7 linked regions of the Homo sapiens genome follow. The protein of the gene in region 6 purifies or fractionates together with the protein of the main gene of each other region. This does not show direct contact. Each region holds a gene or a part of one and is shown on either strand. Other genes may lie near its edges. The genes, in order: ABCB8, ARHGDIB, ABHD17B, LMBRD2, SLC25A46, SLC26A6 and MBTPS2.

Evidence for each region.
Region 1: the proteins of SLC26A6 (region 6) and ABCB8 purify together in Homo sapiens (affinity purification with mass spectrometry; one large-scale study listed by BioGRID and IntAct). This does not show direct contact.
Region 2: the proteins of SLC26A6 (region 6) and ARHGDIB purify together in Homo sapiens (affinity purification with mass spectrometry; one large-scale study listed by BioGRID and IntAct). This does not show direct contact.
Region 3: the proteins of SLC26A6 (region 6) and ABHD17B purify together in Homo sapiens (affinity purification with mass spectrometry; one large-scale study listed by BioGRID and IntAct). This does not show direct contact.
Region 4: the proteins of SLC26A6 (region 6) and LMBRD2 purify together in Homo sapiens (affinity purification with mass spectrometry; one large-scale study listed by BioGRID and IntAct). This does not show direct contact.
Region 5: the proteins of SLC26A6 (region 6) and SLC25A46 purify together in Homo sapiens (affinity purification with mass spectrometry; one large-scale study listed by BioGRID and IntAct). This does not show direct contact.
Region 7: the proteins of SLC26A6 (region 6) and MBTPS2 purify together in Homo sapiens (affinity purification with mass spectrometry; one large-scale study listed by BioGRID and IntAct). This does not show direct contact.

The regions. Positions count from the first base shown.
Region 1 is NC_000007.14:151,041,679-151,045,997, forward strand, and holds part of ABCB8 (mitochondrial potassium channel ATP-binding subunit), read left to right. Parts: intron 1-282; coding exon 283-430; intron 431-2,292; coding exon 2,293-2,543; intron 2,544-3,530; coding exon 3,531-3,671; 3' UTR 3,672-4,319. UniProt on the Homo sapiens protein: ATP-binding subunit of the mitochondrial ATP-gated potassium channel (mitoK(ATP)). Together with pore-forming subunit CCDC51/MITOK of the mitoK(ATP) channel, mediates ATP-dependent potassium currents across the mitochondrial inner membrane.
Region 2 is NC_000012.12:14,941,049-14,944,938, reverse strand, and holds the end of ARHGDIB (rho GDP-dissociation inhibitor 2), read left to right. Parts: intron 1-99; coding exon 100-163; intron 164-2,217; coding exon 2,218-2,417; 3' UTR 2,418-2,908; downstream 2,909-3,890. UniProt on the Homo sapiens protein: Regulates the GDP/GTP exchange reaction of the Rho proteins by inhibiting the dissociation of GDP from them, and the subsequent binding of GTP to them. Regulates reorganization of the actin cytoskeleton mediated by Rho family members.
Region 3 is NC_000009.12:71,872,714-71,877,032, reverse strand, and holds part of ABHD17B (alpha/beta hydrolase domain-containing protein 17B), read left to right. Parts: intron 1-1,949; 5' UTR 1,950-1,952; coding exon 1,953-2,419; intron 2,420-4,319. UniProt on the Homo sapiens protein: Hydrolyzes fatty acids from S-acylated cysteine residues in proteins. Has depalmitoylating activity towards DLG4/PSD95. Has depalmitoylating activity towards GAP43. Has depalmitoylating activity towards MAP6. Has depalmitoylating activity towards NRAS.
Region 4 is NC_000005.10:36,141,504-36,145,822, forward strand, and holds part of LMBRD2 (G-protein coupled receptor-associated protein LMBRD2), read right to left. Parts: intron 1,904-4,319; 5' UTR 1,847-1,903; coding exon 1,673-1,846; intron 1,097-1,672; coding exon 999-1,096; intron 1-998. UniProt on the Homo sapiens protein: Recruited to ligand-activated beta-2 adrenergic receptor/ADRB2, it negatively regulates the adrenergic receptor signaling pathway. May also regulate other G-protein coupled receptors including type-1 angiotensin II receptor/AGTR1.
Region 5 is NC_000005.10:110,741,724-110,746,042, forward strand, and holds part of SLC25A46 (mitochondrial outer membrane protein SLC25A46), read left to right. Parts: intron 1-323; coding exon 324-366; intron 367-2,006; coding exon 2,007-2,064; intron 2,065-4,319. UniProt on the Homo sapiens protein: Transmembrane protein of the mitochondrial outer membrane that controls mitochondrial organization.
Region 6 is NC_000003.12:48,628,906-48,633,224, reverse strand, and holds part of SLC26A6 (solute carrier family 26 member 6), read left to right. Parts: intron 1-140; coding exon 141-251; intron 252-828; coding exon 829-980; intron 981-1,132; coding exon of another isoform or gene 1,133-1,180; coding exon 1,181-1,345; intron 1,346-1,423; coding exon 1,424-1,576; intron 1,577-1,918; coding exon 1,919-2,001; intron 2,002-2,084; coding exon 2,085-2,232; intron 2,233-2,504; coding exon 2,505-2,618; intron 2,619-2,709; coding exon 2,710-2,787; intron 2,788-3,067; coding exon 3,068-3,163; intron 3,164-3,246; coding exon 3,247-3,353; intron 3,354-3,513; coding exon 3,514-3,583; intron 3,584-4,319. UniProt on the Homo sapiens protein: Apical membrane anion-exchanger with wide epithelial distribution that plays a role as a component of the pH buffering system for maintaining acid-base homeostasis.
Region 7 is NC_000023.11:21,863,617-21,867,116, forward strand, and holds part of MBTPS2 (membrane-bound transcription factor site-2 protease), read left to right. Parts: intron 1-3,500. UniProt on the Homo sapiens protein: Zinc metalloprotease that mediates intramembrane proteolysis of proteins such as ATF6, ATF6B, SREBF1/SREBP1 and SREBF2/SREBP2.

The sequences.
Region 1 (4,319 bases), on a different chromosome or scaffold from region 6:
GCAAATGCAAGCCCCCAACTCCCAGCGCCCTGCCCTGCCAGCTCCTCCCACTCCCACTCCTGGGGAGGGATTCTGGGCCCTTGGTAGGAAGTCGAACTGTCCTTCCCTTTTGGGGGCCACTCTGCATCCTCACTTCACCTCTGACTTTGAACGTCTGATTCTTCAAGAGATCCTAATCTAATCCACCAGATAGACTGTCCCATTGTGTATGGTGGCCCCTCCAGTTTCTGGGGCAAAGAGAATGTTTCTATGGACTCTGTCTCCATAACCCCTCACCCACAGGAGCCCGTCCTGTTTGGGACGACCATCATGGAAAACATCCGCTTTGGGAAGCTGGAAGCTTCCGATGAAGAGGTGTACACAGCCGCCCGGGAAGCGAATGCTCACGAGTTCATCACCAGCTTCCCCGAGGGCTACAACACGGTCGTCGGTGGGTGCTCGGGTCTGCCGGGAACCAGGTGGTGAGGCACTGGGACACAGGATTCCACAGGAGCAGTGAGCAGCCCAGTGGGACTGAGGGCAGCAGGGACAGCTGGGGAGAAAGACAGTTGTGTCAGGGAAGACGAGAACCACAGCCAAAGGGGACAGAGTCGTTGTGTGGGGACAGGGGAGTCCAGGCCAGTGTGGTTCAGAACCAGCAGACCAGGCAGGCTGCAGAGACAGGACGGGCTCTAGGAGGAGCTGGAGAATGCGACAGAGGGCATATGACAGGCTCCTGGCCAGGGACACAGTGATGCATGGTGTTTGGAGTCCTCACCGAGTCTAAAAGGCCGCCACTTCCCCAGACTGAACAGAAGAAATGGGGGGCTGCCTCCTCTCCACCATCCATCCCCCTCTGGCTCCTGTTTCCTTCCTGTGCTTTTCATCTCTAAAGTCGTTTCTCATTAGAATCGGGGTGACTGGATGGGCCCCAGGAGAGGGCTCTGGTGGTTCTGAACTAGGAACACGCAGCCTGGCACTGCAGGGCGTGCACCTTGCAGCTTGACGTGCGGAGCTCCCAGGTCTTTTTCCAGCCTTCGGGGCCATGTTTCTCGGCCAGTGTCTTGGCTCTGTTGCACAGTGTTTCAGCACTTCTCAGGATACAGGGATACCTGGGCTTCTCAACTCTGGTCAGTCTGAGTCCAGCCTTCTGAGCTGTGGGGCCAGTGTCCCCAGCCCAGCCATCGTGTTCTAGATGGCTCCTCCAGCCGTGTTGATACACTGTCCAGATGCCAGCTGTCCTCACTGGGTGCTCTCCCACATCTCTTTTGGGTGGCACTTTCCTTGTGTCTCTGATCCTAGTACTTTCTGCTCATTTGGGCCTTCTTGGGGCTGCGTCCTTACTGACCTGTCACCCTGCTGTCACCTTGAGGTTCTTTTTGGCTCCCAGGCTGCCACTTGTGCTGTCCTCTGTGGGCTTCGAATCCCACCTCCCTGGAGTCACTGGACCCCAGAGCCCATGTTTGGGTGCTGGATGTTCCCCACAGCCACAGAGACCCGGGAGGCTGGGAAGGTGGCTTGGAACTGCAGGCACAGGGCAGGGTGTGGGTCATCCTGGCCTGAGGCACTGCCATGGCTGGGGAGGGGCATTTGGCAACTCCCTTGGAGTGCACCAAGCCCTGCTGGCGGTGTCACACCACCCTCAGAGGCAGGGCAAGTGTGCACAGTGGCTGAGGGACCCAGAGGTGGGATGAGCCAGTGCAGGGGGAACCCAGAGGAGGAGTGTACACAGTGTGGGGTGGGGGGTCAGAGGCAGGAGGAGGGTGCACAGTGCGGGGTGGGGGTCAGAGACAGGACTAGGGTGCACAGTGCGGGGTGGAGGGTCAGAGACAGGACTAGGGTGCACAGTGTGGGGTGGAGGGTCAGAGACAGGACTAGGGTGCACAGTGCGGGGTGGAGGGTCAGAGACAGGACTAGGGTGCACAGTGTGGGGTGGAGGGTCAGAGGCAGGACTAGGGTGCACAGTGCAAGGTGGAGGGTCAGAGGCAGGACGAGCGTACACAGTGCGGGGTAGAGGGTCAGAGGCAGGACGAGGGTGCACAGTGCGGGGTGGGGGGTCAGAGGCAGGAGGAGGGTGCACAGTGCGGGGTGGGGGTCAGAGGCAGGAGGAGGGTGCACGGTGTGGGGTGGGGGGTCAGAGGCAGGAGGAGGATGCACAGTGCGGGGTGGGGGTCAGAGGCAGGAGGAGGGTGCACAGTGCTGAGAGGGGCACTTAGAGGATCTTGATGGGCGTTCAGGAAGGACCCTGTGCCCCTTTGTGGGCCACCCTCAAGTGCACAGCTTCAGGCTCCTGCCCTGCCCCTCCCTTCCCAGGTGAACGGGGCACTACCCTGTCTGGGGGCCAGAAGCAGCGCCTGGCCATCGCCCGAGCCCTTATCAAGCAGCCCACGGTGCTGATACTGGATGAAGCTACCAGCGCGCTGGATGCAGAGTCCGAGCGGGTTGTACAGGAGGCCCTGGACCGGGCCAGTGCAGGCCGCACGGTGCTGGTAATTGCCCACCGGCTCAGCACTGTCCGTGGGGCCCACTGCATTGTCGTCATGGCCGATGGCCGTGTCTGGGAGGTTAGTTGTCCTGGGGGCGTGGATCAGTGGGTTGAGGATGGCTTCATCACGGACAGTGGCACAATGCTGCAATGAGTTATATGAAGTTGTGGCCTGGCCCCAGGGCCTTGGGGGCTATATTCTGGAAGCAGCGTCCCATATAGAGTCAGGAGTTCCTGCATTCAGCCAAGCCCTGGCCTCTCAGGCCCTCAGTTTCTTCTTCTGTCCCCTGGGATAGTATAATTGCACCATCAGCTCCCAGGATCAAAAGGAAAAGTACTAGCCGGGTGCCTGTAATCCCAGCACTTTGGGAAGCCAAGGCAGAAGGATCTCTTGAGGCTAGCCTGGGCAGCATAGCGGGACCCTGTCTCTACAAAATACCAAAAAAAAAAAATTAGCCGGATGTGGTGGCATGCACCTGTACTCCCAGCTACTCTGGAGGCGGAGGCGGGAGGATTACTTGAGCCCCAGAGGTTGAGGCTGCAGTGAACAATGATTGTGCCATTGCGCTCCAGCCTGGCATCAGAATGAGACCCTGTCTCAAAAAACAAAAAGGAAACATACTCAGAGTATGGTGCTGGGAGCAAGGAGCAGGGCTAGCTGCCCAGGGTATCAGGTGCAGGAGAAGCAGCGCCAAGGAACCTGTGCAGGGAGTCAGGAGTAGGACCCCAGAGGCCGTGTGGCGTTGGCTAACAGCCACTCATTCAAGCCAAGGCTGAGGGGCTCGTGCAGGGAGACGGATCCTGAGTTGGAGCCTTGGGCTCTGTAAGGGGGACAGAGGGAATCATGTTCTTCCAAAATTCAGCTAAGTAAGGAAGTGGCAGTAACTAATGCAGCATGCCAGTGGCGGTTCCTTTCAGATTGGGCATTGGTTTCAGAGTGTCCCCAGAAGGGACACCGGCCTAAGTGACCATGGGCCCAATGGCTGATAGAGAGGCTCAGCTCTCTGAGGGTTCTGAAGCCTGCATGCCTTGGAGCAACCATCCGCCCTTCCCTCCCATCTTCCAGGCTGGGACACATGAAGAGCTCCTGAAGAAAGGCGGGCTATACGCCGAGCTCATCCGGAGGCAGGCCCTGGATGCCCCGAGGACAGCGGCCCCACCGCCCAAAAAGCCAGAAGGCCCCAGGAGCCACCAGCACAAGTCCTGAGAAGGGCCCCCTGAGGTGTGGTCGCTGCCAAGCATCAGTGTTAGGGCTGGGGCTCAGCCTGGGGGAGCCTACTGGGGACTGAGCCCCCAGGAGGGCCAGCATGTGGAGAGTCGCTGCGGCTGCTCCTGCTCACAATAAAGCCGGGGCCGAGCAGCTGGCAGGGGAGGCCAATCCCTCCCTCCCCTCCCCAGTCCTGCCGGCTGCCTCCCTCCCACCAGAGTCTGCCAGAGTCATTGGGCTGCAATGGGCAGAGACAGAGTTCCACGAGACACCTCCACTCTATTCTCCCTTTGCCCAGACCCCTCCAGACCTCTCAAGAGACGTTCTGGCCAGTCTCCCTGCCCCACCCAGCAGCTTCAAATTGGCCAGGCCTACAGTAGCTCCAGGGAATTTTTAAAAATCAGGGTCTGGAAGTGGGCCTGGGAATTCAAACCTAGGCTCTTCCCACACCCTTGCTAGGACCTCACTTCCCTAGACTGGCGACTGACTCCCTCTCCTGTGTCCCCACTCCCTCCATGGGAGAAGGAGCCTATCCCCTGGCTCACCCCGGGACCCACAGTCCCCATCTTCCAAACAACCTCCCTCCTTTCTCCCTGCACAGTGAACACAGTCCTGATTTCTAGATTTCACCTCCCCTCCCCACCCACA
Region 2 (3,890 bases), on a different chromosome or scaffold from region 6:
ATTGTCAGAGACGATTCAGCTAGGCAGGATCAGCATGAAAGATGAGAAAAAATGAAAGACCCTCTTAATCTGAACATCTTGGTTCCTTCCCACCTGCAGGTGAACAGGGATATTGTGTCAGGCCTGAAATACGTTCAGCACACCTACAGGACTGGGGTGAAAGGTAAGGGAACCCACATTTCCACACTGTCCCAAACTGCTTCTCATTGATACTTTAACTTCTGGTTATTAGCAACTTTTAGCTATAGACTCAGATGAGAATACAATAAAAGCTGTGGATGCCGGCTCTAGGAAAAGGCACAAATACACCTCTGATATAGACATTGACAAGGCCAATGCTCAGGGGACCTCGTTTAGACTGCATCAGCTGCTAACGTTCAGCAGTCAGCTTTTTGGATTCAATATTATCACTCGTAAAGGAGAAGAGTAACCAAGATAAGTTTAAAGGAAATAAAGTATATAAAAATACTCTACAAAGTAAACAACCAAAAAAGGCAGTTCACAGGTACAAAACCCAAGTGTCAGAGAAAACCAAGAAAGAAAAAACTTGCCCAGTGCCATGTGTATCTGGGGTGGGAGTAGGTGGGGGTGGCATTGGAGGGAAGGGGGAGGCAATGCTCAATTTCCTAACAAAGAAATAGAAAAAAAAATATTTTCTAGGATTGAAAAAGCCTGTCTAATTAAAATAACACAACAACATTACTTAATCTGCAATTCTTCTTGTCATGCCTTGGGACCCTGCCTTCAATTTTCTTTCATTAATATAGGCAGGGAGAAATGAGAGGCGGGAAGGTGATGGAGGCACTTTACAGTTCCTTTCTACCTAAGGGTCTGTCCCCTCCAGAGGCAAGAAACAACAAAGCATGTCTCAGTTTCCACCAAATTAATAAGCAAGATAGGGGAGAAATTGTCTGATAAATCTGGATGACATAGAGGACCAGTCAATTTCTCAAATCCCAGAGAAGACCATTGACCTGAAAGATATTGATTGGCCTTTCCGATACCTAGTCTCATGAAAAAAAAGTTTAATTTCCTATTTTCCTTTGGGCATAAAGCCCGTATCACCTCACTTAGACAAAAGGACAGTGACATGTCTGCAACTGTTTTTTCAAACTTATTAGCAACACTTAGCCAACTATATGCCACCTATCTGCCTATGTATACTTTTCAATGCCCAACTATTCTTAATATATATTCCAGTTAACCACCTATAAATAAACTTGATTGGCTATTTTCACCATTTGTCCTAGTTCTTCACTTTTTTTTTTACCAACTTACTGCTGTTGTTGTTCCATCCAGTTATTCTATCCATGAATTCTCATCACCATCTGTTACTTTATCTCCCCCAACTGATATGTTCATAGAATGACAGTTTGTAGATAGAAGATCCTTAAAGTCCATCATATACACAAAGAAATGGAGGCTCAAAAATGTTATATGACTTAGGCCATTGCAGGACTGAGATCAGAACTGAGGTCTCAATTTGTCTGAGTTTTTTAAAATGGTGTAATCTGCTATATCTCCATAAAAAAAACAACAACAACAACAAAAAAAAAAAAAACAGGCTTAATCCCCATTGATTTAGGCCACTGGTTCCCCAACTTTACCTCAGAATCAACTTTGTAGTTTTTTAAAAACACTGATCCCTGGGACCCACAGAAGGTTACTGAACCATAGCCTTTGGAAGTAGGACAAAGGAAACTATATTATTAAAAGGCACTCCAACTTAAAAAATGTTTTAAAGAATAATTTTTTTAAAAAGATGCCTCAGGGCCAGGTGCGGTGGCTCACACCTGTAATCCCAGTACTTTGGGAGGCCGAGGCGGGTGGATCACCTGAGGTTGGTAGTTCGAGACCAGCCTGACCAACATGGAGAAACCCCGTCTCTACTAAAAATACAAAATTAGCCAAGCATGGTGGCGCATGCCTGTAATCCCAGCTGCTCGGGAGGTTGAGGCAGGAGAATCACTGGAACCTGGGAGGTGGAGGTTGTGGTGAGCCGAGATTGTGCTTCCGCACTCCAGCCTGGACAACAAGAGCAAAACTCCATCTTAAAAAAAAAAAAAGATGCCTCAGGTAAATCTAATGTTTATTTAGGCTTGGAAACCATTGCTCTTGACTTTAATCACTGTAGGCTGTAGTCCAGATTCTCCAGTTTGCAGTGTATGTTTTTCCTCTATCAGGCTCTTACCCTAATGAACTCTTCTTTCTTCTTAGTGGATAAAGCAACATTTATGGTTGGCAGCTATGGACCTCGGCCTGAGGAGTATGAGTTCCTCACTCCAGTTGAGGAGGCTCCCAAGGGCATGCTGGCGCGAGGCACGTACCACAACAAGTCCTTCTTCACCGACGATGACAAGCAAGACCACCTCAGCTGGGAGTGGAACCTGTCGATTAAGAAGGAGTGGACAGAATGAATGCATCCACCCCTTTCCCCACCCTTGCCACCTGGAAGAATTCTCTCAGGCGTGTTCAGCACCCTGTCCCTCCTCCCTGTCCACAGCTGGGTCCCTCTTCAACACTGCCACATTTCCTTATTGATGCATCTTTTCCCACCCTGTCACTCAACGTGGTCCCTAGAACAAGAGGCTTAAAACCGGGCTTTCACCCAACCTGCTCCCTCTGATCCTCCATCAGGGCCAGATCTTCCACGTCTCCATCTCAGTACACAATCATTTAATATTTCCCTGTCTTACCCCTATTCAAGCAACTAGAGGCCAGAAAATGGGCAAATTATCACTAACAGGTCTTTGACTCAGGTTCCAGTAGTTCATTCTAATGCCTAGATTCTTTTGTGGTTGTTGCTGGCCCAATGAGTCCCTAGTCACATCCCCTGCCAGAGGGAGTTCTTCTTTTGTGAGAGACACTGTAAACGACACAAGAGAACAAGAATAAAACAATAACTGTGTGTGTTCTGGCTGAGACCTTCATTTCCCTGCTTTCTTGCTTTGAACAAATATGATAACTGGATGGTTCACATTCATGAGTTCCCTCAGAGGGGATGGGGATGAGGAAAACACACTGGAGGAGATATTTACATCTTTGGGAACAAATTGGTCCCCTATTACACTATAATAGGCAATGCACATTCAGAATACAGCCAGTGGGAAATCTACATTTTACTTATTTAGTTAGCTATTTTTAATTTCGACTTTTATATTAGGTATAGAGGGTACATGTGCAGGTTCGTTACATGGGTATATTGCATCCAGGTAGTGAGCCTAGTACTAAATAGATAGTTTTTCAAAAAATGCCCCACTCCCTCCCTTACCCCTCAGGTAGTCCACAGTGTCTACTGTTTCTATGTTCATGTCTATGTGTGTTCAGTGTTTAGCTCCCACTTATAACTGAGAACATATGGAAGTTGGTTTTCTGTTTCTGCATTGCTTTGCTTAGGATTATGGCCTCCAGCTTCATCCATATTGCTGCAAAGGACATGATTTTACTTTTTTATTATGACCATATAGTATATCATGGTATATATGCACCACATATTTTATCCAATCCACCATTAATGGGCAACTACATTAATTCCGTGTCTTTGCTATTGTGAATGGCACAACAATGAACATACATGTGCATGTCTGTTTGGTACAACAATCTACTTTCCTTTGGATATATACATAGTAATGGGGTTGCTGAATCAAATGGTAGCTCTGTTTCAAGTTTTTTGAGAAATCTTCAAACTGGTCACTCTCCATACGTTCGTAAAAATATTATGCCTTGGAATGCTAACGTTACTCCTAAAAATTGGAGTACTCTCCTTGGCCTTACTGTAGAGATAAAAGGTATAGATGTCCTCATTACTTAGAGTTGCTTTCCACAGTGGCTGAACTACGTAACTGCTTAAGCTACATCCCCATGAATAATGTATAAGCATTCCCTTTTCT
Region 3 (4,319 bases), on a different chromosome or scaffold from region 6:
CCCTCAGTTAAAGTTAGCAGATGACACTTAGTTGTTATTTCTGTCCTATTTCTTGTTCCAACCAGAGTAAGCCATTAACTTATTCAGGCTGTATTTTGAAGCCTAAAAAGAAATAAAGGTAGGAAGCAATTAAAGCATTTCCTAATATCCAAGATGTTTTTCTGCCCTTCCCTCACCTTTTGAAGTCTTTTATGTTATACCTACCCTTGTTCCTCTCTTCCTGTGCTTTTTTCTGCTGCTTCTTATAAACACATTTATACTGAGCATTATAGGATATATTTGATTCTGTATTGAGTGAAAAGGGCATTTTTTCCCCCAGATATTCTCAACCATTTAGTCACTCTGTTGAGTTGTTTTCTTCCCATTTTTGGTGTAATAGGGTACTTTTTTCCCCCTATTCTTATATTTAGATTTTTTTTTTTTCTTTTTGGAGAAAATTGGATGCCACCAAACCTGTAAGGTGTTGGTTTTAAATGCCTTTTCTCTGGAACTAAGCAATGGCCTAATTTTGCTAAAAAGAGACAGGAATTTGAAAAAGGACAAGATAGAAGGAAATACTGATAGAACTAACAAGTATTACTTTATTTTTGTCCCTAAGTTAAAGTGTGACAATGATATGGCCATCACTCACCGTATGTTGTATGATGGGCCTTCACTACACCAACATTTGATATTCACAACCAGGTCCTTCAGTGTAGGTATTGGCCTTGTTTACTTATGAAGAAAATGAGAGTCAAAGAGATAGTTTGCCCAAGGACATACAGCTGGCAAACGGTAAGTGGTAGAGTTAGGATTTTACCCCAGCTTCCTAACTTTAAACCTTGTACTCTTTCTCTTCCAAACATTTAGAAAAGTTTACCTTTAGTAGATTTTACCTTTTTTCCACAATAAACTTTATATTATAGCCTTTTTAGTTTGGGCAGTAATTACATACATACATACATGCATGCATACATACATACACTTTAATGTTCTATAGGTTATTTGGGCCACTGGCACTGTGACCAAAGTGATAGTCTTCTGAGCGTGTTCTGAATCTGTGAGGCAGTGTAGCCCAGTAACATAGTGTAGTGACAGCCTGGAGTCAAATCCTGGCTCCACCACTGCCTCATCTTGTGCAAGTTTCCTTTCTCACAACAACTTACACAGTTGTTCTGAGAATTAAACCAAGTAACACACATAGAGCACTTGGCACAATGCCTGACAAATAGCTTCATAAATGCTATTAGTATGTATTCACTTTATGCTAAATTCCTAGCTTCTCCATGAGGTTCTAAGAACTTTTGCTGAGTTACATAGAAATTACAGACTACACTAAAGATATTTCATACCTTCAGGTTATTTGTAAAGAAATGGCAAATATTACCTTTATCATTTTTGACATTTATGTTAAATGAGATAATAATCACTGCTATTTGAAACCTGTCATATAGGATTTGAGTCTGTCTGCTGGTCAGGAATATTTGCCTCACCCCAGGATTTAAAGTACTTCTAGAAAGAAGCCAAAGGCCGGGCGTGGTGGCTTACTCCTTGTAATCCCAGCACTTTGGGAGGCCGAGGTGGGTGAATCACCTGAGGTCAGGAGTTCGAGACCAATCTGATCAACATGGAGAAACCCCATCTCTACTAAAAATACAAAATTAACCGGGTGTGGTGGCGCATGCCTGTAATCCCAGCTACTTAGGAGGCTGAGGCAGGAGAACCACTTGAACCCGGGAGGCGTAGGTTATGATGAGCTGAGATTGCGCCATTGCACTCCAGCCTGGGCAACAAGAGTGAAACTCCGTCTCAAAAAAAAAAAAGAAGCCAAAAATCTGTTTGGAATCATACCTAAAATAGTAATAGTCATTAACCACCAATAAAATTTACCCATGTCTGTGTTTTAACTTTTTATTGTATGAGTCTACATTCAGTTATTAAAATATTTGCTATCTCCTTTTCTTTTTCAGAGCATGAATAATCTTTCATTTAGTGAGCTATGTTGCCTCTTCTGCTGTCCACCTTGTCCAGGGAAGATTGCTTCAAAATTAGCGTTTTTGCCACCTGATCCAACTTACACACTGATGTGTGATGAAAGCGGAAGCCGTTGGACTTTACATCTGTCTGAACGAGCAGACTGGCAGTATTCTTCTAGAGAAAAAGATGCTATTGAGTGTTTCATGACTAGAACCAGTAAAGGCAACAGAATTGCTTGTATGTTTGTACGTTGTTCACCCAATGCGAAATACACTTTACTCTTCTCACATGGAAATGCTGTTGATCTTGGTCAAATGAGCAGCTTTTACATAGGACTAGGATCACGGATTAATTGTAATATATTCTCATATGATTATTCTGGATATGGTGCCAGTTCCGGGAAACCCACAGAGAAGAACCTCTATGCAGACATTGAAGCTGCTTGGCTTGCTCTTAGGACAAGGTAAATTGTGGTTGGAATTTATTTTTCATACTCGTGGTGGTTAGCTAAAAATATCTTGTGTAAGAATAGAATAAAAGCTGTTTTTATTATACATAACTGCTATATAGAGGTTATATTTACTATTATATACCTGTGAATAAATATTTTAGACAGCAATTTTAAATTTCACATAATAGCAAAACAAAGTTTTTAAAGACAGTTTCAGGTTTGTTTGTCTACATTAATACACGTATATATGTATGTTTTTTTTAACTTAAATTCTTAGCTGGAAGTCCATGGTGCATGCCTATAGTCCTAGTTACTTAGGAGACAAAGTCAGGGGAATCACTTGAGGCCAGGAGTTTGAGGCTGCAGTGAGCTATGATCGTGCCACTGCACTCCAGCCTGAGTGACAGCGTCAGACCTCATCTCTTAAAAAGTTAAAAAAAAAAAAAAATTAAATCCAGTGACAAATGTTTGGTTTTTGTAAGCTTTCTTATTGGAGTGTGATATAAAAAATGTTTATTCAAAGCTGCAACCTTTCAAGGAAATGAGAGAAAATACTGACATAGCTAATTATTCACTTGATCTGTCATTAACAGTATGAGGCTGGATTGCTTTCTATTAAAATCTTAAGCCAAGATTTGCATTATTTTATGTGATTACTTCTTGGGAAGTACAACTTAAAGATACCTTATTGGAATTATTTTTCAAGTATTCATTCTGTAAAACTGAGATTTTACTTTATATTCTGTGTTCCTAAAATTGGGAGAGATTATATCAAGTTTAAAAAAATTTTTTAGGCTGGGTGCGGTGGCTCACGCCTGTAGTCCTAGCACTTTGGGAGGCTGAGGCAGGCGAATCACAAGGTCAGGAGTTCGAGACCAGTCTGGCCAACATGGTGAAACCCCATCTCTACTAAAAATACAAAAAAAAAATGTCTGGGCGCAGTGGCTCATGCCTGTAATCACAGCACTTTGGGAGGCTAAGGCAGGTAGATCACGAGGTCAGGTATTCGAGACCAGCCTGGCCAAGATGGTGAAACCCCGTCTCTACTAAAAATACGAAAATTAGCCGGGCACAGTGGCGGGTGCCTGTAATCCCAGGTATTCGGGAAGCTGAGGCAGGAGAATCACTTGAACCTGGGAGGCGGAGGTTGCAGTGAGCTGAGATCACACCACTGCACTCAAGCCCAAGTGACAGAGTAAGACTCTGTTTAAAAAAAAAGAAGTTTTAATGTTATGATAAATTGTTTAATAAAATTTTCTTACTATGTCAGTTATTCTTTGATTATAGCAGCATACATTTTGGGGAACTAGAAATTGCATTAATCTTTTCTAGTCACCAAGATACCTAAACATTTTTCTTGAAAAAAAAATCACAATTTGGTAGACTTCAGTGTATTATTAGTCAGGTTAGTGTACAATAAACAGATACCTTAATATAGGCTATTCTTTATATTATATGAAAATAAAATATCTGACTTCCAGGATGTTTTAGACTGAAGCTATAGGATATAAAGAAAACTTACTGTTTCTAATTTAATGTTTAAATATTAAAGATTTCATTTAGTCAGGAAAAATTTCCTCAATTTTAATAATAAAGTAGTTAATATTATTAAAGATATTAAAAATATCTTTAAAACTATTTTTCCCTCCAAAGAAATGTAATAAAGTTATGCTCTCATAGCGAAGTTCTACATAAAAGGGATTCTTAAAATCAACTGAAATTATATAAAAACATAAATATGGGGAATAAGGAAAAAAAGATGGCAAGTAGTAGGTAAAGAGTTGATGGGGGATGGTAAAGTTATTGTTTAATTGATAAATTAAAAACTGCTTTAAATAAAAATCTTTTACATATATTGATATCAGTTCCATCAAGCCTTAAAACAAACAGAAACTGAGTGCCCACTTTTTAG
Region 4 (4,319 bases), on a different chromosome or scaffold from region 6:
AACAATCATTAAAAGCAAATGTATTATGAAATAAAATTTCTAATGATTACCTTTAAAATACACAATCCATTTATAGGTTGGGTTTTTTTTTTTTCAGGTTATAGGGGTTGGGAGGGGAAAACATTAGGTAATTAATTCCTGAAAATTGTAATGCTAATTAAATCACTCACTATAACATAGCTTCTATGGAGATGCATGCTAGCAATTATACATAATTCTGTTTAAATTTTTGAAGACATGATGAGTCTCTGATCATAAATTCTGCCATGGAGCCATATTCCTAAGCTAGAAGGATATCCCAAGAACTTGCAACAATCTGTAGCTGCTGCTGATCTTTATCCAGTTTTTTTAATAGTGCTTCAAATGGAAGTAACACCTGCATTTTAAATTTACCTTTTCTGAAGTTAGATTTTTTAAAAATATGCATAAAGAAGCATGCAAATACTACTGAAAGCATTCATAAAGGCTATAGTCAACATATATAAGCTTTTTACTTAAAAGTTCGATATGAATTCAATATAATCTTTGGACAATTTGAACTTTATTAATTTTTTATGTAAATCTATAATGCTTTTGAAGGATGTGCAATATGAAAGGAATACCATAAGTTCAGAAATACTTGTCTTTATTATAACCTTGTAAATTAGGCAAAAGTGAAAATACATCCCACGTTTTTAAATCTGAGATAGGCTGAGAGGAAAAACAGGTTTTAGAAATTACATACTTGGTAAAGAAGAACCAGGACTAAAAAATCAGGACTTCTTCAAGTTTCTCACTACCGTCTACTGAAGGGCTTTGTGGACCAATAAATATTAAAAATTAGATTTAATTAGAATATGATGTAATGAAAAGTCTACTAGGAAAGAATAGAGGTGGGGAGAATTAGTAGAGAATGAGGATAACTTACATAAATATAAAGTCTGGATGGTAAAAACTTTCAATTTTTAAACAATGTGTCCCCTACAATGTTTATATATTTTTTTTAAAAAAGGAAATACCTTGGAACAGGGTTAGCAGTTGCGTACAATCCTGTAATGTTGCTATTCTCAGGAGGGCTTGAATTTGCAGCAGCATGCTTGCACCGGTTGTATATTGTCTAAAGCAACGAATGTATGGTTTAAAAATGAGAATCAAAAGGTTACCAAGTACTTAAAGGACATCAGAGTTTATAAATCTATCTATCTAAACTTACCTTCTTGGCTATGCTTTATTCTTTTTTTTTTTTTTTTCTTTTTGTGTGAGACAGAGTCTCACTCTGTCGCCCAGGCTGGAGTGCAGTGGCGCGATCTCGGCTTACTGCAAGCTCCGCCTCCCGGATTCACGCCATTCTCCTGCCTCAGCCTCCCGAGTAGCTGGGACTACAGGCGTCCGCCACCACGTCCGGCTATTTTTTTTGTATTTTTAGTAGAGACGGTGTTTCACCGTGTTAGCCAGGATAGTCTCGATCTCCTGACCTTGTGATCCGCCAGTCTGGGCCTCCCAAAGTGCTAAAATTACAGGCGTGAGCCACCACGCCCGGCCCTTGGCTATGCTTTTTAATGATCAAATGGCCATATAATCTTTTAATTCAAAACTGACATAACTTAGCTGTCTTAAGAAATAACATTATTTCCAACATGCTGTATGATTAAAATTTGTCTTTTAAATTGTGAAAATAAATTTCACTCCTTACCGTACTAACATCCAGAGGCAGTATGAAGACAATAAGAAAGCAGAGATACCAAGCAAGCAGTGTTCCAATAATCACAAGTCTATGCTGTTTCTTAAAGTCTCCATATCGATGAAGCAGAAATAATGCCAGAAAAAAGACAAAAACAATCTCAAGTCCCAAAGCTGCACCACTCATTATTGAATATTTCACTCTGACTAACCAAAGTTATTCATGTACAGGTCTGGACCATATCTATAAAGTAAAAAGAAGGTTAAAATGCATCATTAACACAGGAAATGACATTTGGAAATTTCATCTGAATATTTATTAGTACATTAATACATTAATCAACTCTTTGGAGAAATGTCATGCTTCACATTGGACTATGAATAAGATTAAAAGGGTAATTCCTATCCTCAAGTACTTATATTTTATTTTTAAAGCACACTTAAAAAATTTCACGTACCTTGTATTTTCAAAAACTTAACAAAAATTATTAGTTCTTACAATATTACAAATTAAGAAGTTCTTATTTTAGATGTGAACAGTTTTAATACAGTGTCATCTGGAGTTTGTTTCTTAATATTATAAGTCCTAACAGAATAGTTTATGCAAATAAGCTGTTAACTAAATCCTAGGAAATTAGATACTTAGTAAAATACATTTTACTAAGATTATTCATCCTCTATAATTTAAGATTTTCTAAAAGAGAGGAAGGAAAAAACGGAAAGAGACCATTTAAAAGTAACCTTTTGTTTTTTGAAATAGTATTTTTCTTTTGTGTTAATTTCACCTAACAACTCAACTTTCATGAAATTCTTACTCACTGCTTTACAAAATATATTTATCACTTCCATTTATCTACATAAATCTTTAAACTTACTTTGATAAATTCTCATTTTTAATTTTTCTACTATTTTATATGCAGAAAATTTATCAATGACTATTAAAGTCATACATTTGAAAACATTCTTAATTTTATGATACAGTCATCAGCGAATAGTTTACTTGATATCTCTCTACTCAAAAAAGTTAGAGTATAGAGATTTAAAGTCTCTATTTTAAAATTGAAAAATTTGATATCTCTCTATACTTAAAAAAATTTACTAATCAAAGGCAATATGAACTTTTTCTCCTTTGTAAAATCAATGTTAGACTTTTGTTTATCTACATACTACAGTATTTCAAGGAATTGATTAATATCCTAACACAGAGAATCAAGAGTGTGATCAACCCAACAAAATAAAATAAGGGGCAGTGGCTCACACCTGTAATCCTAGCACTTCGGGAGGCTAAGGCAGGCGGATCACCTGAGGTCAGGAGTTCATGACCAGCCTGGGCCAACATGGTGAAACACCATCTCTACTAAAAATACAAAAATTAGCCAGGTGTGGTAGCGGGTGCCTGTAATCACAGCTACTCAGTAGGCTGAGGCAGGAGAATCGCTTGAACCTGGAAGGCAGAGGTTGCAGTAAGCCGATATCGTGCCATTACACTGAAGCCTGGGCAACAAGAGCAAAATTCTGTCTCAAAATAAATAAATAAATAACAAAATAAGGGAGAACCAATGAAATACTTCAAATCAACAAACATCTTTAACTAAAACTATTTAGAATAATAGAAAAGACAATTTAAGTACTTTAAATGGTTAAATTTAAATTTATATACAAAATACTCCTACATGAACTATCACATAGAAAAATCACATTTAATGAACAATTTTCTTCACTATTTTTTATATTGGTAAACAGTTTCCATTTCAACTGTCAATATTTTCATTTTTCTTAATTATCTAAAATTGAACTTCTTTCATCAATCTCTACCCTCTTATCCTGCTATATTTTCCTTCAATGCATTTATTCATCTGATATAATACACATTCTTTATATTTATTGTCTCTCCACACCTCTCCCCTTACCCCAGAGACTCTATGAGAGCAGAGACTTGACTATTTTATTCCATACTATATTCCAGTTGTCTGATGTAGTTAGTACCTGGCATACAGTAGTATCAAGAAATATTTGTTGAAATAATAAAAAATACTGTGTAGTTTAGTACATACACTATTTTTCTATTACTGACGACTTCAAAGGCAATGTAAAACTCGTGTAATGGTAAACTGATTTAACAAATACTTATTACAACTCAAAAGGCTTAAAACTCTGAACATTACCAAATACTACTCAAATTTTCAAATTTCATATTCTATGAAACAACTTATACCACAACAAAGTCAAATCTTATGTTTTAAAAAATAGACAAGGTTTTGCCATGTTGCCTGGGCTGGTCTCGAACTCCTGAGCTCAAGTGATCCACCTGCCTCAGCTCCCAAAGTGCTGCAATTACAGGCATGCGCCACAGCGCCCAGCCAAATCTTATTTTTAAGCTAAGCATAGATTAAGTAGTTGGCTGAAAGCTCAATGCAGAATGTGCTGATAACAAAACCATCTTCGAGATCTAGGGTTTTTTTTCTTTAAAAAAACCCAATTGATGTGAGTTTAAATATAACATAATTAACTGAAAATCCTTTTATGACTTGAACTAGACCTGAAATTGTCCAGTGCAAGGAATATGACAATCATACAAAAAAAAGACTAAATATTAGAGATTACCAAAGAAATGCTAAATAAAGCATGGCAGAGCCAAATGATGAAATATTATTGTAGTA
Region 5 (4,319 bases), on a different chromosome or scaffold from region 6:
ATATAAAATGAGAATATCTTTTTTTGAAAAAATTACAACTTCAAAACCCTGGGCCCACACTCTAATGTGGCAACAATGAATTGGAGTGAAAGCGTAATTGTGCTTTAAACACTCTACACCTTGCAATTTGCCACAGACCCCAGCAGAGTCCTTCATTCATTTAAATTATTTACCTGGCCCCTATCAGAATTTGACTTTGAGGTTTAAATGAACAGCAGGTTAATAAAATAAATTTTTTAAAATTGTTTTGAGACTAAACCTAAATTGTCAGTAATTGGTTATCAGTAATCTTATTTTTTTATTTCTATTTTTTTTTACTTTAGAACAGCTGAATAGATTTGCTGGATTTGGTATTGGACTTGCAAGGTAATGTTTTATCTAAAGACGTTTACAGCTTTTATTTATTGAATTTAGAGTTTTTCTTTAATTTACAATATTAAATGATTATTATTGCTTCCTTTAGGTTGTTTCTTTGAAGCAGCAGCTTAAATTTTGAATAATATTTTGCAGAAAAAAAATGACCATTATTTAAAATATATAATTTGATAGTTTTTCCAGTAAGGATAGACTAGTCATCCAATTTTATAAACACAAAGTAATTTTGTAATGAGTATTGTAACTGTTTTCATGGGTCTATCCAAAAAATAAAATGAAGTGTAATCTTATCTCTCTCCCATCAAAATAATAATTTAGAATGGGGTTCATGAAGATCAAATGGCTCTGCTGATAAGAACTTTTTTCATAGGACATTTTCTGAAAGAAAAATTACATGGCATTTAATGATGCCATGTAACTGACGTGTCATTTCCCACATCAAACATACAGTGATCTAGTTTCATTTTATACCGTAGATATTAATATTGTGTATTATATATTGTTTCCCTTACTTACCTGTTTGCAGATCTGGTTTTCATTCTTTTCATGGGTCTATCCAAAGAATAAAATGAAATGTAATCTGTCTGTCTCCCATCAAAAAAGTAATTGTGCATGGAGGCTTCTTTCTAAACACTCTAATGCTTACAAGATATTTAGCAACATAGCATCTAGATTTTGTTCATAATCAGCGTTTGGTGATAGCATTACTTTTTTTTATATCTAACGATCATTTTAAGAAAATCCTTTAGTCTTGATTATTGTGATCCTTAGTGAATACCATTTTCAAAAATATTGGAATTGCACAAAGCTTACATTTCATGCCATAATGATCATTATTTTAAACATTTTAACGAAGAAAAACACCTTATTTGCATAATTAAACCCGAGGGTGTTAATGTCAATATAAATAAAATCTGTGTTTTCCATTCTGCTGGAGTTGTTTTTTGCTTCAATATTTATACTTAAAGCTTTGATTCATTTGATAGACTATTATTACATATAAATATGTGTGCACATGTATGTATATGTCACTCTGAGACCTGAAACCCACAGCTGTAATTGTTTTGTGGGGCACATTCTCAAAATAAATATTTGATACATAAATATTAGTCAATTAACATGGTCATTAAGAATCTTATAATTTAAGATTTATACTTAAATTTATACTTAAACCTTATAATTTAAGTGCACCAAAACCAAACATTTTTAGAATGGGGTTCATGAAGATCAAATGACTCTGCTGATAGGAATTCTGTTATTAGGACATTTTCTGAAAGAAATAATTTGCAGCATTAAATGCCATTTAATTGATGTGCCATTTCCCACATTAAACATTCAGAGATCTAGTTTCATCTTATACTATAGACATTAATATTATGTATTATGTATTGTTTCCCTTATTTACTAGTATGCAGATCTGGTTTTCATTCTTTTCATATTGAATTTCGTTATGGGTAGAATCATTTGCAAACATTTCTAGACATTTTTAAAGATCTATTTAATTTGTTTAAGAATGGAAAACATAAAATAATGCATGATTCTTCAGGCAAGAATAATTTCAGAAAGATACCTGTTGTAAATTTAATTTATCTCTATGTAGACATACATATACATAAATTATTTTTATATAGTCTCTTTACAGAAAATGTATTGGCACATCCTTGCATTGTTCTACGCCGCCAATGTCAGGTAAATGTAATTTCTGTGATCTTTTGAAGCAATACTTCTGACCCTAATATGAAGGGCAGAACTCACATAAATGACATGAAACCAGGTAATTGTTACTTCATGTGAAATGTTCCAAACTTTTTGGTCTCAAAACCTCTTTAAAGTCTTAAAAAAATATTGAGGATCCTAAATAACTTTGGTTTATGTTGGTCATATCTATTGATAGTTACCATTTCAGAAATTAAAATTGGGAAAATTTCAATGCATCTATATAATTCATTAAAATAATAACACCTGTTAGTAAGATAATATGTTTTTATGAAAGTAACTATTTTGCATTTTTGCAAATATCTTTAATATCTGACATAATAGGAGAGAGCCAGTTTCTCTCGTATGCTTCTGCAGTCAATCTGTTGCATCACGTGGTTTTTGAAAGAAGCAAGGAAGTTTAGTCTTGTACACATGTATAGTTGAAAGCAGGAGAGGAGTATATTATATTCTTTTGAGATAATTGTGGGTATTCTTTGCAATTGCACCAAAACTCACTGTGTCGCAGTTTCTTAAAGGTTATTTGCAATGTGAAATCAGAAATCATTTTAGTGAACTTTTTATACTTTGTTACATTAAAAAATCCATTTAACTATACTGCATCTTGAATAGATATTTTTACTTATGCCTGATTCCATGTAATTGTGCATAAGTTATTTGAAAAATATTGACCAATTGAGTTACATAGATCTTCCTGTTGTTAAAACATTTGATTATAAAATATCAAAAAATCATCTTCATTAAAAATACTACTGATCTCACTAGAAAAGTCTATAAGTATTGTCAGCTCTTGACGATGCATATAGATTTTCCAAAATTCTGAGTTTTAGTTGAAAATTCAAACTTATCATTGACAGTAAATACTGTTATTTATTTTTGTTTTAATCAACAATCTCACTTTGTTTATTTTTTAAAATATGTCTGTCCTGAAAGTGAATAGGTATAGTCCGTCAATGAGTTTTTCTAAGTAAAAATGATGTTCCGTGAAAAAAGTGGCTAGTTTAGCTTGCAGTTCTATCATACAAGTGCTTTCCTCATGACAGCAATCTTACTTCCTTATGTAACACACAGGATATTAATTAGAAAGAGGATGTGTACTCAAAGGTCAAGGATTCATAAAATTAACATTTTGTTACTTCATTGTCAAGGATATTACTATATGAAGGTTGCTTTTTTCTCTCTATGGGTAAATGAGGTGAAAAATTACTGTAAGTACGAAAATACAGTTTGATGGTGCTGCCTCAATTTGTGCTAATGAGCTGGGAGTTTTACCTACCATTGCTTTTGTACCATTAGTGAAAATGTCAAGACAGTGAAAAAAGGAAATTATATCTTAGTAATCACTAGGAAAATAATTTTGAACTTGTCAAGCCCCTGAAAGGGTAATGGGGCCCTCAGGAGTCAGTGGACCCCACTTGCAAACTCTGTTATAACCCACTTTTTTTTTTTGTTTGTTTGAGACGGAGTCTCGCTCTGTTGCCCAAACTGGAGTGCAGTGGCATGATCTCGGCTCACTGCAAACTCCGCCTCCTGGGTTCACGCCATTCTCCTGCCTCAGCCTCCCGAGTAGCTGGGACTACAGGAGCCCGCCACCGTGCCCAGCTAATTTTTTGTATTTTTAGTAGAGACGGGGTTTCATCGTGTTAGCCAGGATGGTCTCGATCTCCTGACCTCATGATCCGCCCGCCTCAGCCTCCCAAAGTGGTGGGATTACAGGTGTGAGCCACTGCGCCCGTCCTGTTATAACCCACTTTCTCTGTAAAGTAATGCTTCCTGTATTTGTTAGCTGTTAGAGTTCAAAACAGTATAAATCATTATAAATTAATCTGTTCATGCTTAGCACTGAAAAGTATGTATACAGAAATACCATTAAAGTAGCATTGACTGTATGTGCCACAGAACAGTGTATTTCAGATATATATTTTACATTGTAGTAATATTAACATGGAGATCCAATGGATACATTACATATAAGTAACAAATATATTATTTTTAAATGTTTTATGAAATAATACCATTAGAATGTAATACATTCTAATATTTTATTGTTTCACATAATAAATATTGTTTTGACACTCCCCCAGTTGATTTCATATACCAGTCAGTTGCCAAGTACAGTTTGAAAAATGCTTGCCTAAAATGAACATGAGTTGGGAGATGTAATTCAGTTGTTTAAGGCAAACCAAATATCAAATAAGACCCTCTTTATTATATAGTCTACAGTACTG
Region 6 (4,319 bases):
GGAAACCCTGTGGTCTGTGATGCCCAAAACTGGGGCCATGACCTCTACCTTGGAACTATGGCACCTAACCCAGGGCTGGGATTCCCTTATCGTTTCAAGATCTGCTCTCCAGGCCTGCACTGCTACCATTCTACCCCTAGGCTTGGCCTACGCCCTCCTGGCTGGATTGCCCCCCGTGTTTGGCCTCTATAGCTCCTTCTACCCTGTCTTCATCTACTTCCTGTTTGGCACTTCCCGGCACATCTCCGTGGGTAAGTGGAGGCAGGCCTAGCCTTCCAGGAGGATGCCCACATCCATCATGGAGGGCAGGGTGAGGGGGCACTGAGCAGGGCAGGAGCGGCTGGGGAAGAGGGCAGCATTGGTGCTGCATCCCTGGGCTAGCCCACGAGTCATCCCCAGGCAGGACTAGACCCCTGACTGTAGGACCACAGAGGCAGGTGACCTCAAAGCCCTGGCTCCAGGAAGATGAGAGTGGGTGAGGCAGCCCAAGGGGCCTGGAACTTGGCAGAGGCCTGAGCAGCCTAAGGCCAGCCCTGACCCCTTCCCTACTCCACAGAGAGCCTCTGTGTCCCGGGACCAGTAGACACAGGTGGGACAGGGTAGATGAGACAGGGCCAGCATTTCTAGCCATGCTTAAGGGCCTGTGAGCTCAGGGTTTACTCCTGGCCTGGCCAAACCTGAACCGCCAGCACTGTCCCTGTTCATGCAGCCATAATCTGAGTACATTTATCCAGAACTGGAAGTCTCCTGGCCTCTCTCTTAAGACCAGGGCTCCAGGGCAGGGCAGTGTCCTCTCCTCTTCAGACCTGCCCCGTGCCGTCCTTACAGGGACCTTTGCTGTCATGTCTGTGATGGTGGGCAGTGTGACAGAATCCCTGGCCCCGCAGGCCTTGAACGACTCCATGATCAATGAGACAGCCAGAGATGCTGCCCGGGTACAGGTGGCCTCCACACTCAGTGTCCTGGTTGGCCTCTTCCAGGTGTGGAACAGTCAGGAGTATGTGCCCCCCACCACCACTTCTGCTCCCGCCACTGTCCTGTCTGTACTCCCCTGAGTGTCTGACCATCGTCGTCCTCCTCTTGCCGTCTACTCATCCCCCTCCCATCCCACTTGCCCTGCGCTCCTCATTAGCAACCCCAGGACCCCTGCCTCTCCTGACTGCCCCTGGCCGCCCCACAGGTGGGGCTGGGCCTGATCCACTTCGGCTTCGTGGTCACCTACCTGTCAGAACCTCTTGTCCGAGGCTATACCACAGCTGCAGCTGTGCAGGTCTTCGTCTCACAGCTCAAGTATGTGTTTGGCCTCCATCTGAGCAGCCACTCTGGGCCACTGTCCCTCATCTATGTGAGTGAGGGTAGGGGGAGGGAGGGGTAGGTGTGCCCCATGGCCTTGAGTGCTAGCTGTGACCTGGCCTCTCCTCAGACAGTGCTGGAGGTCTGCTGGAAGCTGCCCCAGAGCAAGGTTGGCACCGTGGTCACTGCAGCTGTGGCTGGGGTGGTGCTCGTGGTGGTGAAGCTGTTGAATGACAAGCTGCAGCAGCAGCTGCCCATGCCGATACCCGGGGAGCTGCTCACGGTTCGAGGGCCAGGGAGTGGAGGGCAGGGGAGAAGGGCAGGTCAGGCTGGGTCCTTGCCACGTGGGCAGCCTCCTGTATTTGAGGGCCAGCTGGAGGGGGGCTGGGAGGGTTCTTGGGTATTGTGGGGGGCACAGCAGAAAGCCCCTATGTTGGTTTCTTCCTGCCCCTGACAGCATCTCCCCATAGCCGAAATGGTGTTGCCTGTCTCTCACCCTACGTGACTTTTTCCCACCCTCGAAGAAGGTTTTGCCCAGTATCTCCCTCCTCACCTCACAGTGGTTTATGTGTCCCCCTGACCATGGTGCCAGCACCTGCCTCCCTGACTCTGTCCTCTCCCACAGCTCATCGGGGCCACAGGCATCTCCTATGGCATGGGTCTAAAGCACAGATTTGAGGTAGATGTCGTGGGCAACATCCCTGCAGGGTGAGCTCTGGCCTCCATCAGGTCAGGGAGGGTTGGGCAGCCAGGACAGGACCTTGCTTTGGCCTCACAGATACCTCTCACAGGCTGGTGCCCCCAGTGGCCCCCAACACCCAGCTGTTCTCAAAGCTCGTGGGCAGCGCCTTCACCATCGCTGTGGTTGGGTTTGCCATTGCCATCTCACTGGGGAAGATCTTCGCCCTGAGGCACGGCTACCGGGTGGACAGCAACCAGGTCTGGGTGATGCGGGATGTGTAGGAGGCATCCAAGTGTATGGAGGCGCCAGCAACGGGTGGGGGAGGAACCGGTGGGACACAGGGAGACAGCAGATGTGCTGAGGCCACGTGGGGGACTGAGGGTGGGAGAGCAGGACGTGTGGGACAGCATCCAGTCTCTGGGGGCCACTTGGTGGGGATGGAGATTGGGGATGCACAGGCCTAGATACAGTGGAACAGTGACCAGCCACTTCTAGGAAGTCTTCTCACACCCGTACTGTCCCCCGTCAGGAGCTGGTGGCCCTGGGCCTCAGTAACCTTATCGGAGGCATCTTCCAGTGCTTCCCCGTGAGTTGCTCTATGTCTCGGAGCCTGGTACAGGAGAGCACCGGGGGCAACTCGCAGGTGGGCTTTGGGTGTGGGCATGGGTGTGGGCATGCACATTGCTTTGCCTGGGGAAGGAGGTCTCTCCCCTGCTCACTCCCTCCCCGAACAGGTTGCTGGAGCCATCTCTTCCCTTTTCATCCTCCTCATCATTGTCAAACTTGGGGAACTCTTCCATGACCTGCCCAAGGTGAGCCCCCACCCAGCCAGGTTTCAGGTCTTGGCCAGGCCAGGGCTCTCAAATCAGCCAGTCTAGGTTCAGGCGAGGGGTGGGGACACAAGGTTAGGTTCTGTTTTTCAAGGCTGAGATCTTCAAGGTGAGATTTGGAGACAAGGGTCAGGGGCTGGGTGGGGGTTTGTGTCTGGGGTACTGCCTGAGTGCTTGGGCTTAGTCTGGCTTTGCCTCGGTGAGGAGGGTTGTCAGCATCGGGTGCCCTCAATGGCCCCTGGTGGCACTGTCCCCACCCCAGGCGGTCCTGGCAGCCATCATCATTGTGAACCTGAAGGGCATGCTGAGGCAGCTCAGCGACATGCGCTCCCTCTGGAAGGCCAATCGGGCGGATCTGGTGAGTGCACTGGGAGCCCAGGGCAGGGACTGGGCAGCCCCATGGCTCCTCGCCGCCCTCCAACCGCTGCCCTCTGTTCTCAGCTTATCTGGCTGGTGACCTTCACGGCCACCATCTTGCTGAACCTGGACCTTGGCTTGGTGGTTGCGGTCATCTTCTCCCTGCTGCTCGTGGTGGTCCGGACACAGATGTGAGTCCGCCATGTTGGTCCCCTCATTCCAGCTAGTGAGAGAGTACCACAGGGCTCCCCGCAGCTTTCCCCACATCTCTGGGGACTTCAGGCTCCTTCGGACCCCTCTGTTATCCCCTTTTTCTGCCCCCTCTTCGTGCATTCTCTCTCTCCTTCACAGGCCCCACTACTCTGTCCTGGGGCAGGTGCCAGACACGGATATTTACAGAGATGTGGCAGAGTACTCAGAGGTGAGTGTCAGGGGCTGAGTGAGATGGTGTGGATGGGGAGACGGAGGAAGAATGAGCCTTTGTGGATTCGTTCCACACTTGGCCAGGGAACTGGGGGCTGAGGATACTTTGGCTTTGGTCTTTGGGATTTCAAGGGAGGAGTTTAGGTCTATGACCCCCTCTAGAGGTATGAAGGGACAGAGGGAGAGTGGACAGAGATGGGTCTGGGGCTGGGGAGGGGTCTGTCGTGGAGTCAACAGCACAAGCTCCACCTGCAGAGCAGCCGTGGGTCAGAGAGCCGGAATGGCAGCTCCCTGGGGCGCCAGGTTGGAAGGGAGGCATTTCCTGATCTGATCAGTGGGGTTACTAAGTCCTCAGTCATCCATTTATCTCCTGAGAGGTCTTGGGCCAAGTGCTAGGAACATAGGTGGGGGGCTCTGGAATAAAACAAGGCTGTTGCCTGCAACATGGGCACAGTGCAATTAGGCAGTGCGGGGAGGAATTAAGGGGTCTGAGACATGGGAGAGGATGAGGGGGCAGCCCAGCCCTTACCATGCATGCCTGGAGCCCAGCAGAGACCCGGGCTGTGACCCGAATGGGGTGGGAGCGGGGAAGGTCTGATTGATATGACAGCCTAGGAGGACCTCTGTCTGGGTGCAGAAAACAGAACACAAGGCAGGGGTTGGAAACCCAAGAGAAAGGTTAAGAGCCTGTGAAGCCTGCCTGGGTGGTGGCAGGAGAGGTGGGGAGGGAGAGG
Region 7 (3,500 bases), on a different chromosome or scaffold from region 6:
TACTGAGACTTCTTTTTCCTTAAAATTGACACCTAATGTCCAAAACTAAGACTAAAGAAGGTTATATATATCCCCACCAATAATTGGGTCCACGCACCTCTTTCAGAGCTTATTAAATGGTATAGAACTAACTAGTCCCGCTATCCCAAACATCACCTAGCCCATTAACTTCTCATTCCCAGTTGTGAGTTGTCAGCCTAGTAGACAGCTGAACAGCTTTGCCCTGCCGTCTTTCCCAGGCAAGGGGGCAAGGTTAGGGGTGGGGAGGAGATGCTTATCTTGCCCTGAATTCAAGACAGGACAAATTCAAAGATCTGGAATTGTCTCTAAAAAGAAGAGTTTAGTATCCCTGCTAAATGTTTGCTGAGCTGTGAGCTCACCGTGGTGTAGCCATCAAAGTGGAAGACAACGTGGGAAACCTGTGTGTTCCTCAAAGTTTAGGGATGTACATAAATTATGTATTTAGAGGGAGAGAGAAATATGTGTGTACCCTCTGCCTACTTTATTGGTTTTAAATTTAGGAATATAATTTCATTGCTTCTAAAATGTCTTCCCACTTCCATGTAAAAAGTCCAGGGTGTCATTTAAATCTAGTTTTTTGTTTTGTTTTGTTTTGTTTTTTGTTTGTTTGTTTGAGACGGAGTTTTGCTCTTGTTGCCCAGGCTGGAGTGCAATGGCACGATCTTGGCTCACTGCAACCTCCGCCTCCTGAGTTCAAGTGGTTCTCCTGCCTCAGCCTCCGAAGTAGCTGGGATTACAGGCACCTGCCACCACACCCAGCTAATTTTTTATGTTTTTTTAGAGATGGGGTTTCACCACGTTGGCCAGGCTGGTCTCGAACTCCTGACCACAGGTGATCCACCCGCCTCAGCCTCCCAATAAATCTAGTTTTATAATGCTACTTTTAAAGAGTTGCATATATAGGCCAGGTGTGGTGACTCACGCCTTTAATCCCAACACTTTGGGAGGCTGAGGTGGGCAGGTTACTTGAGCTCAGAAGTTTGAGACCAGCCTGGGCAACATGGCAAGATTCCGTCTCTACTAAAAATACAAAAAATTAGCTGAGCATGGTGGTGCATGCCTGTGGTCCCAGCTACTCAGGAGGCTGAGGTGGGAGGATGGCTTGAGCCTGGGGGGCAGAGGTTGCAGTGAGCAGAGATTGTACCACTGCACTCCAGCTGGATGACAGAGTGAGAACTCTGTTTCAAAAGCAAAATAAGTTGTATATGTAATAGGTTTTTTTCTTTTTTTCTTTCTTTCTTTCTTTTTTTTTTTTTTTTCTGAGACAGGATATCACCCTGTCACCCAGGCTGAAGGGCAGTGGTACAATCACCGCTCACTGCAGCCTCGACCTCCTGGGTTCAAGTGATCATCCCACTTCTCAGTCTCCCAAGTCGCTGGCACCACAGGTGTGCACCACCACACCCAGCTAATTTTTGTATTTTTTGTAGAGAGGCGGGTCTTGCCATGTTGCCCAGGCTGGTCTCAAACTCCTGGGTTCAAGAGATACAACCACCTCGGCCTCCCAAAGTGCTGGGATTACAGGCATGAGCTAGAGCTACCACACGGGGCTATTTCTTTAAAAAAAAAAAAATGAAATATATACTGATTTTGAAAAGAAAAAGCCACTAAACATCTGTCTGAAATTTGGTGGGGAAAAAAGAGAGATGAGATGAGATACTTCCTGAGCACACTGTAAATGAAGATGTTTAAATTTTGAATTATGGTGTATAGAATTTTTAGAAGAGGGATTAAACAATACCTGCTATCTGGTTCCAAGTGAAGAGTAGATTGCTTTAAAAAAATTCTCTATGCTTTGTTGCTAAAAATTCCTTTATAAATAGTGGAAGTAAAATTTGACCATTCTGTTTCTATACTTAAATGTTTTTAAATCCTTCTTAAATATTGAAAACCCTGTTCTTATTTGTATAAGCCAGTTGTAAGTTTATTTGAGGGCAAAGTAAAAAACATTGGTGATAAAAGTGATGTTGTGATTATAGTAAGCTGGAATTTAAACTTAGAACACAGTGTAAGCCTTGCCAAATTGATAGTTTACATTCTTTCAGCTATAACTACTGTGAGTTATTCAAGGAATATTGAGTTGTTATTTTACCTATTCAGTCATCTGGTGACCTGTAAATCATTTCTGTGTGTTTAGAGAATTAAGGTAGTTGTGGTTTTTTTTTATTATTATTTGCAAACCACACTAAGCATAAGTAGGGCTTGATTGGGGTAGCCCTTAGCCCCCGCTTAATAATAATCACCAGCTTCAAGTCTATGGGTATCTTGCTGCCTTGATGACAACTATAGATTTTCTTCTCCCTTGACCCATGATTTTTGTTTGTTTGTTTGTTTTGTTTTTTTGTTTCTTTGAGACAGAGTATCTTTCTGTCACCCAGGCTGGTCTCAAACTCCTGGTCTCAAGTGATCTGCCCACCTCAGCCTCCCAAAATGCTGGGATTACAGGCATGAGCCACCGTGCCCGGCCCCATGATATTTTTAAACCCTGAGTCTCCCATATTCTGATTTTTCTACTGTTGCCCCAGTCTCATTGCTTAGTATATAAACCAGAATAAAATTGATCCTCAATTCCATCTAAGTCCTACTGTTTCTTGGCTGTTGTTTTATTAAAATCATGAAGAAAGCAAAAAAGGCATTCCATCACAACTATTGAAAAGTGTTCTAGAAGTTACAGTCATTGCTATAAGACCAAACAGGAAGGAAAAGATGAGGTATGAATGTTGGAGGAGATAAATGATTATTATTAGCAAATAATGGAAAATCCAAGAGAATAAAGACTAAGACATCCTAAATGGAAAGTTCAGTTTGGTGATTAATTACAAAGTAAATATACAAAAATAAATGTAGTATTCCTGTGTATCTGAAAGAAACAGATCATGTAATAGGAAGAAAAGATCTCATTCAGAAAGTAATGTGACATATAAAAAATAAAAAACTAACATTTTAAAAGAAGTACACAGGGCCTATATAGAGAAACTACAAATCTGTACTGAGAGATGTAGAAGATTTCAGTAAACAGATGTCGTGTTCCTATGTCAGAAATGTAAAATTATGGATTTACCCCTAGTTATTGCAGTCATTGCAGTGACATTAGAAATCCTAATGTGGGCCAGGCGTAGTGGCTCACACCTGTAATCCTAGCGCTTTGGGAGGCCGAGGTGGGCGGATCACTTGAGGTCAGGAGTTCAAAACCAGTCTGGCCAACATGGTGAAACCCTGTCTCTACTAAAACTACAAAAAAATTAGCCGGGCGTGGTGGTGGGCGCCTGTAATCCCAGCTACTCGGGAGGCTGAGGCAGGTGAATCACTTGAACCCAGGAGGCAGAGGTTGCAGTTAGCTGAGATCTCGCCACTGGGCAACAGAGCGTGACTCTGTCTCAAAAAAAAAAAAAAAGAAAAAAAGAAAAAAAATCCTAATTTGAATAATATTTGGTGGTTGTCAAAATGATTCTCAAATTTATCAGAAAGGATAAGGGGAG